Linked DNA regions of Homo sapiens. The protein of the gene in region 1 purifies or fractionates together with the protein of each later gene. This does not show direct contact. Each region holds a gene or a part of one and is shown on either strand. Other genes may lie near its edges. The genes, in order: ACADSB and GOLGA4.

Region 1 (3,827 bases):
TCAGTAAAAGACTGATGCGAAATAAGCCTTGCATGGAACCACAGGAGGTGTGCAAGACAGGTGTCAAAATACTAAGTGGCTATAAGCACACGCAGGAGAGTATTTTGTAAAACCCTGAACAGCGCTCTTTAGTCATGACCAGATAAATGTACTTTTCACAAAAGTGGAAACCTTTCTGCCAAGAAGCTGTCCTGGGAAGCAAGTGCCAAGAATTCATCCCATTTATGTTTTATAACTTATGTGCTTCTGACCACGTATACTTTATAAGCTTGAGACTTGTGAACCAAATGGGGCCGCAGAGAAGGAAGTCTGGTGTCAGTGCACTAAAGGCCACAAGATGGGGGTGTTGCTCAGTGAGAGCGGAAACAGCCAGGCTATTAAACGTGAGCAGCAGAAGATCCAGATAGTTAGTGCTGATGCTGGAGAACTCCCTGTAGGTGGGGCAGGTGGTGTCGGCTTTTCCACCACTCATCACAGAGCTTGATCTTTTTTTTGCATGGCTGTGGGGAGTGAGGGGGAGGATGTCTTTACAGATGTCACTGGGGCCTCATTACTTCACCCCAACTGTTTTCCTCATTCTTACTTTCCCATTTCTTTCTCCATTCTTCCCTGCTCTCTCCCCCAACTACCCATATTACAAAACTAAGTATAGTTTTTTATTATTCTTAATTCTTTATTTTTTTAAAGTATGAATAAGCATTTTAGTCTGTTTCTTCTCTCTTCCTCTTTCTTGTGCATACACCTGTGTACACACATGCACACACACATATACCCCACCGTTGATTTTTATGAGGGTGAATGGTCTCAACAGCAGAAAGGCTTACTACACTTGTTTTTGCAAGTATTTGCAGATCTTTGTAGTTCCTAATATGTTATCTCACACTGTAGCCTACAGATAAGAATTGGGGGGGAAAAGTATTAATTTATGTTATTGATGAATTCTATGAGATTCCCTTACTCTAGATTCACTCATCCATTCAATACCTGTGCAAGGCTCTGGAGGATGCAATCATGAACAGCATGGACTTGAGTCCTTTTCCTCAGAGAGCTGTGGAAAAACAGCGTAGAGGGAGACACAGATGCCGGCAAGTTCTGTGAGAGGGCTAGCACACGAATTGAGAGTCTATGTGTACTTACAAATATATAATCAAAATGAATCATGGAAAATGAAACTGAGAAATAAGTGCACATTTGTATTTTCAGGTTCCAGAAGCCAATATCTTGGGACAAATTGGACATGGCTATAAGTATGCCATAGGGAGTCTCAATGAAGGTAGAATAGGAATTGCTGCACAGGTAAGTCAGATTTAAACTCTTCCATGATGTGAGTCAATTAAACTGTGAAAAGAAAAAAATGCAATGAGACCAATGAATATTTGGAAGCTTATGGACACAAGATGGCACCGTTCCCTTACATGAGGGATAGAATGGCTTATTATTTCTTTCAAATTCCCTTTTGGTCAATTATGTAAGTGTCCATAGAACCAAACAATGGCTTGGTGGTAACAGTGTTTCTGCTTTGAGAACATTAAAGTATTATCTAATACCTGAACCGATAGCTTTTCAAATGTATTGTAAATTAAATATGGCACTTTAAAAAAAATCAACTTTTCAAAGCATGAAATTCATTCTGGAAGGAATTTTTTACATTAAGAATAAATAATATTCCTTCCACTGTGTAGTAAAGATATCTATAGTTAATAAAAGATTTGTTGCTTACTGTTTTGCATGTGAAAACTGGGCAAGTTTTTTGGCGGCACATGAAATAAAATAGCCACAGTTAAGTAGATACATAAAATGAGAACTATTCAAAATTTTTTTTTACCAAATTTGGCTTTTATAATGCATATTGCATTTTTCTATTAAGTAATATCAGTTATTTTCCAGATTAACAAAATGAATAAGGTCTTTGGCTTTACTTTAGTGTCAGTTTTGTAGAGTGTATATATATATATATATATATATATATATATATATATATATTTTTTTTTTTTTTTTTTTTTTTTTGAGATGGAGTCTTGCTCTGTTGCCCAGGCCGGAGTGCAGTGGTGCGATCTCGGCTCACTGCAAGCTCCGCCTCCTGGGTTCATGCCATTCTCCTGCCTCAGCCTCCCGAGTAGCTGGGACTACAGGCGCCCGCCACCACGCCCAGCCAATTTTTTTTGTATTTTTAGTAGAGATGAGGTTTCACCATGTTAGCCAGGATGGTCTCAATCTCCTGACCTCGTGATCCACCCGCCTCGGCCTCCCAAAGTGCTGGGATTACAGGCGTGAGCCACCGCGCCCGGCGTTTGTAGAGTATATTTTTAATCAGTGATTATACAAAACTCAAGAACTTAGAGCTTTTCAGTTTTGAAGATGTTACATATAAGCTATTGGAATAAATATTAGATTATTACTCTAGATTTTTTTCTGCTGCTGTTACTTTGCTAACTATTTTTAGACCAAAACTTAGTCTAGTTTTCCTACAATGCTTGACAGTGTGTCACTAAAGAATATTGTTTTATCAGTTCTCTTAAAAGTTTTTCTGTGATTCAACTTAGACATGACATTAGAAACTGCAATACTAGAGCTCATTTTTTTCAGACATATAAATAATATAGATGTTCTGGCAATAAAATACACAGCCTGGGCTTCAGTTTAATTACTCCAAGTTATATAATAACCTAATTAAAAGTTAAGATCAGGTAGTTACTATCTCAGTGGATACCTTTGAGAGGAAGAGGCACACGGAGTATAACAGTGAACTGAAGGCATCTGTCCTCGAAACCTTGCAGGCAGAGAGAATTCAGTTTTTCAGTGTTTGTAGTAGAAACATTTTACTGAGGTAGAAAAGCCCATTTTGATGGATAACTGATTATTTCAGTCTTCGTGTCAATATAGGGTATTATTTATGTACAAATTTTAGCTGTAAGGGTATAGTGACATCATCTTATCTCACAGCCAAGAGTGCAGTGAGTCTGCTGCCTCATTTGAATTTGGGGTTTGTGGTTTTCTTGTGCCTTTAATTTTTAACATATTATTCTGTTCTCTAGAGAGTTCAGAATAAAAGACTAAAAGAAAATGTGAATGAATACTAATGAAATAAATTGATAAGTCTGCTGGGCATTTCCCCCAAAAGCTTTAGCTATTGATTTTCTAAAACCATAATTTGACATAATTACTGATTTAGTGGCTACCTAATGTTGAAATTTAGAAACGATTTCTAAGCTTGAATCATATAATAGATATGAAAGTTGGTTAGCAGTGAGACAGTTCAGCTAAAATTGTCACCACGTCCTGTGTAAATTAATGTTTTTACTAGATGCTTTCTATCCATTGTTCTCAACCCTAGCTGTGTATTAAGTCACTAAGGAGTTTTACAGAGTTGAGGTTTAGGTCACACTCCTTCACCTACTCTACTCCCAAGATTTGGATTCAGTCATTAGGCCTGGGTATCAGTATTGTTTTAAATCAGATTCCCCAAATGATTCTATGGTACAGCTCGGATTCAGAACCACTGCTCTCTTATGTTCTAATGCCCTCCCATTGAAGCTCTCATTAATCCTAATCATATACAAAATAGACGGAAAGGTAGAAAGTTAAGAAGTGACCTTCCATATTTTACTTCTAGAAGAACTGGAGGGCCTTCCTCTATAGCCTTCAAGGCCAGTTCTGAGCAAAACTTCTATGGCTCATTTTATACCTGGAGAATCAAAGCTTAAGGAAGATTCCTAAAGAGTAATCTTAACCTAAAAAGGTTGTGTGAACACAGCCTTGCTGGGAGATTTACCTCTGCTAGAATTAAATGTGCTCATATTCACATGAAATCACTCAAAATTTTCTCC
Region 2 (3,827 bases), on another chromosome or scaffold:
ATCAATTTTAAAATATAGCTTCATTACTTCCTGAAATCAGACAGTTTAACACAAGACAACACATTTGTCCTGAGGAGACCGTTAGGCAGCCTACTTTAATTGAATGTGATTCTTCCTGATTAACATATTACAGTGAAATGCAGGCATATGAAATGTTTCAACGCAGTTGACTGTCTTCATCATTTAAACCCTCTCCCCTCATCTCTATGTATTTTTCATGCTATTAGGTTGATTTAGCACCCTCTGAAAATGTACCATACATCTTTACCTCAGCCTTTGCTAGAATTTTCACAAAATCAAAAACAGATCACAATTAGTAGGGCTTCACTATAATTAAAATAAATACTCTCAGTGATTGTTAATATCCAGCTAATAATAGTATCAAGGTTTAAAATGGCAAGATACAACATTTCTCCGTTCTTTTAAGCTTTTATTTATTTATTTATTTATTTATTTATTTATTTATTTATTATTTTTTTTTTTTTTGAGACGGAGTCTCGCTCTGTCGCCCAGGCTGGAGTGCAGTGGCGGGATCTCGGCTCACTGCAAGCTCCGCCTCCCGGGTTCACGCCATTCTCCTGCCTCAGCCTCCCAAGTAGCTGGGACTACAGGCGCCCGCCACTACGCCCGGCTAATTTTTTGTATTTTTTTTTAGTAGAGACGGGGTTTCACCGTTTTAGCCAGGATGGTCTCGATCTCCTGACCTCGTGATCCGCCCGCCTCGGCCTCCCAAAGTGCTGGGATTACAGGCGTGAGCCGCGCCCGGCCTTATTTATTTTTTTTTAAAAAATAAGTAAAGCCTTTATCACCCTGGCTGGAGGGCAGTAGTGTGATCATAGTTCATTCCTGTGTCAGCTCCTGGGCTCAAGGGATCCTCCCACCTCAGCCTCCCAAATAACTGGGACTCTAAGGCACCTATTTTTTTATTTTATTTTATTTTGTAGTGATGGTCTTGCATAGGCTGGTCTCGAACTCCTGGGCTCAAGCGATCTTCCTACCTCAGCCTCTAAGCTTTTTTTTTTTTTTTTTTTTGAGACGGAGTCTCGCTCTGTCACCCAGGCTAGAGTGCAGTGGCGTGTTTTTGGCTCACTGCAAGCCCCGCCTCCTGGGTTCACACCATTCTCCTCCCTCAGCCTCCTGAGTAGCTGGGACTACAGGTACCCGCCACCATGCCCAGCTAATTTTTTGTATTTTTAGTAGAGACAGGGTTTCACCGTGTTATTCAGGATAGTCTCGATCTCCTGACCTCATGATCTGCCCACCTTGGCCTCCCAAAGTGCTGGGATTACAGGCGTGAGCCACTGTGCCTGGCCCTCTAAGCTTTTATCTTTAAAAATCTTCTGTGCCTTCATTTGAGCCTCCTTTTGATTTTAATATATATTATTTGATTTGCCTTAGCGATTATCCAGAACTGTCTTATTTTTGTCATCCACATTACAATGGCTGGCAGTACAATGCATGGTTTTATTAGGTTACTTTGATAATAAATGTGAACATTGAAAAACTGTAAATTCTATAGCTAACCCATTAAGTCTTAATGTTTTCCTTTTAAAATAATACTGCATTGTACTTGTTATTATTGCAGCTGAATATCAATTATCACTGGAAATGTATATTGTGCAGCATTTCTATTAATTGATTAATTGATTGTCTCCTCAACTTTTAGTTTGAAACATTTCAGACATAAGATTTGCAAAAATAGTACAATGAACACCCATATACCCTTCACCTAGTAATGTTTGGCCAGATTTTCTGACTTGCTGTCACTCTTGTTCTCTCTCCATTTATATTATTCCCCATTTGTAACATTTGGCAATTACTTGCCGACATGCTTGCAAGCATTTGACAATTGTAAACATAAACTAAGTACTTTAGCATGTATCTTTAAGAACAAGGACATTTTTCTACATACAGTACAGTTATTACACTCAGGAAGTTTAATATTAGCTAATACTAATATATAGTACATAATACTCAGTTTTTTACAGTTTTCCAAATAATGTCTCCCATAATTTTTTAGAATCCAGGATCCACTTGAGATTTCACATTGCATTTAGTGGTCATATTTTCCTAGTCTTTTTTAAACTAGAAAACGTCTAGCTTTTTTGTTTTTAATGATGCAGCATTGTTGAACTGATCTTGAATTTTGTTTCCCACAACAGATCAAGCTACGGTTTCAAAATAAAAACTGACAAGGAATTTACGTATAACAGAAGATCTTGTTGGTGTCTTCTTTAGGTTCCTAGGACCAACATGATTATTGAACTAGTTTTATAAATAATATACTATTAGTAGTACATTATGAGTAGTGAAATATTTGTTCATTTACAAATTCAGAAGACTAAAACTCCCCCTATCCACTTAATATATATGGAAAGTTTGCCTCTATTAATCTTACTTGGTAATTTATTTTTATGGGATTTTAAACTCATATCTTGATGTGACTACTGGTTTTAGCATTTTCTTTTCCTTTTCTTTTTTTTATATTTGAGACGGAGTTTCACTCTTGTTGCCCAGGCTAGAGTGCAGTGGCGCAATCTCGGCTCACTGCAACCTCCACCTCCCAGGCTCAAGTGATTCTCCTGCCTCAGCCTCCTGAGTAGCTGGGGTTACAGGTGCCCGCCACCACACCCAGCTTATTTTTTGTATTTTTAGTAGAGACCGGGTTTCACCATGTTGGCCAGGCTGGTCTCGAACTCCTGACCTCAGGTGATCCACCTGCCTTGGCCTCCCATAGTGCTGGGATTACAGGCGTGAGCCACTGCTCCTGGCCAGCATTTTCATTTGAGAAACATTATGAGGAAGACTTTGGCTATGTCATAGCTTTTTTTTTTTTTTTTGCCCCCCAGCATGGTCACACCAGCCTAGAGTGCAGTGGCGTGAACACAGTTCACTGCAGCCTTGACCTCCTGGGCTCAAGGAATCCTCCCGCCTCAGCCTTCTGAGTAGCTGGGACCACAGACACATGCCACCACACCTAGCTATTTTTTTTAAAAAAAAGTTTGTAGATACAGGGTCTTGCCATGTTGCCCAGGCTGGTCTTGAACTCCTGGGCTCAAGCAGTCCTCTGACCCTGGTCTCCCAAAAGTGCTGGGATTATAGGCATAAGCCACCATGCCCAGCCAGCATTTCTAATTAATTTATTTTTTGAGACAAGGTGTCACTGTCGCCAAGCCTGGAGTGCAGTGGTACAGTCAGCTCACTGCAGCCTTGACTTCCCAGGCTCAAGCGATCCTCCTGCCTCAACCTCCTGAGTAGCTGGGACTACAGACACACACCATCATGCCTGTCTAATTTTTTCTATTTTTTGTAGCAATGGGATCTCACTATGTTGCCCAGGCTGTTTTTAATTTTTAAATTAAATTTCTTAATTCCAGATGAGACATAAATTTCCACACCAAAATGCTGTTTGTCTTTTGCTATTATGTCATGCTGGGAGAATTGCAATTTGTAGAATAATCAGCACACTGGATAAGAGGAAAGAGCTCTTTCTCATCTTTATTTTTTATTGTTTTTTTGAGGCAGTCTCTCACTCTGTTGCCCAGGCTGGAGAGCGATGGCATGATCTCGGCTTACTGCAACCTCCGCCTCCTGAGTTCAAGTGATTTCTCCTGCCTCAGCCTCCCGAGTAGCTGGGGTTACAAGCACCACCACGGCCGGCTAATTTTTTTGTATTTTTAGTAGAGACAGGGTTTTGCCATGTTGGCCAGGCTGGTCTCAAACTCCTGGCCTCAAGTGATCTTTCCACCTTGGCCTTCCAAAGTGCTAGGATTATAGGCATGAGCCACTGGGTCCAGCCTGTCATCTTTAATTCCAGTCCAATATTT

Evidence for each region.
Region 2: the proteins of ACADSB (region 1) and GOLGA4 purify together in Homo sapiens (affinity purification with mass spectrometry; one large-scale study listed by BioGRID and IntAct). This does not show direct contact.

The regions. Positions count from the first base shown.
Region 1 is NC_000010.11:123,043,190-123,047,016, forward strand, and holds part of ACADSB (short/branched chain specific acyl-CoA dehydrogenase, mitochondrial isoform 1 precursor), read left to right. Parts: intron 1-1,203; coding exon 1,204-1,296; intron 1,297-3,827. UniProt on the Homo sapiens protein: Short and branched chain specific acyl-CoA dehydrogenase that catalyzes the removal of one hydrogen from C-2 and C-3 of the fatty acyl-CoA thioester, resulting in the formation of trans-2-enoyl-CoA.
Region 2 is NC_000003.12:37,361,769-37,365,595, forward strand, and holds part of GOLGA4 (golgin subfamily A member 4), read left to right. Parts: intron 1-3,827. UniProt on the Homo sapiens protein: Involved in vesicular trafficking at the Golgi apparatus level. May play a role in delivery of transport vesicles containing GPI-linked proteins from the trans-Golgi network through its interaction with MACF1. Involved in endosome-to-Golgi trafficking.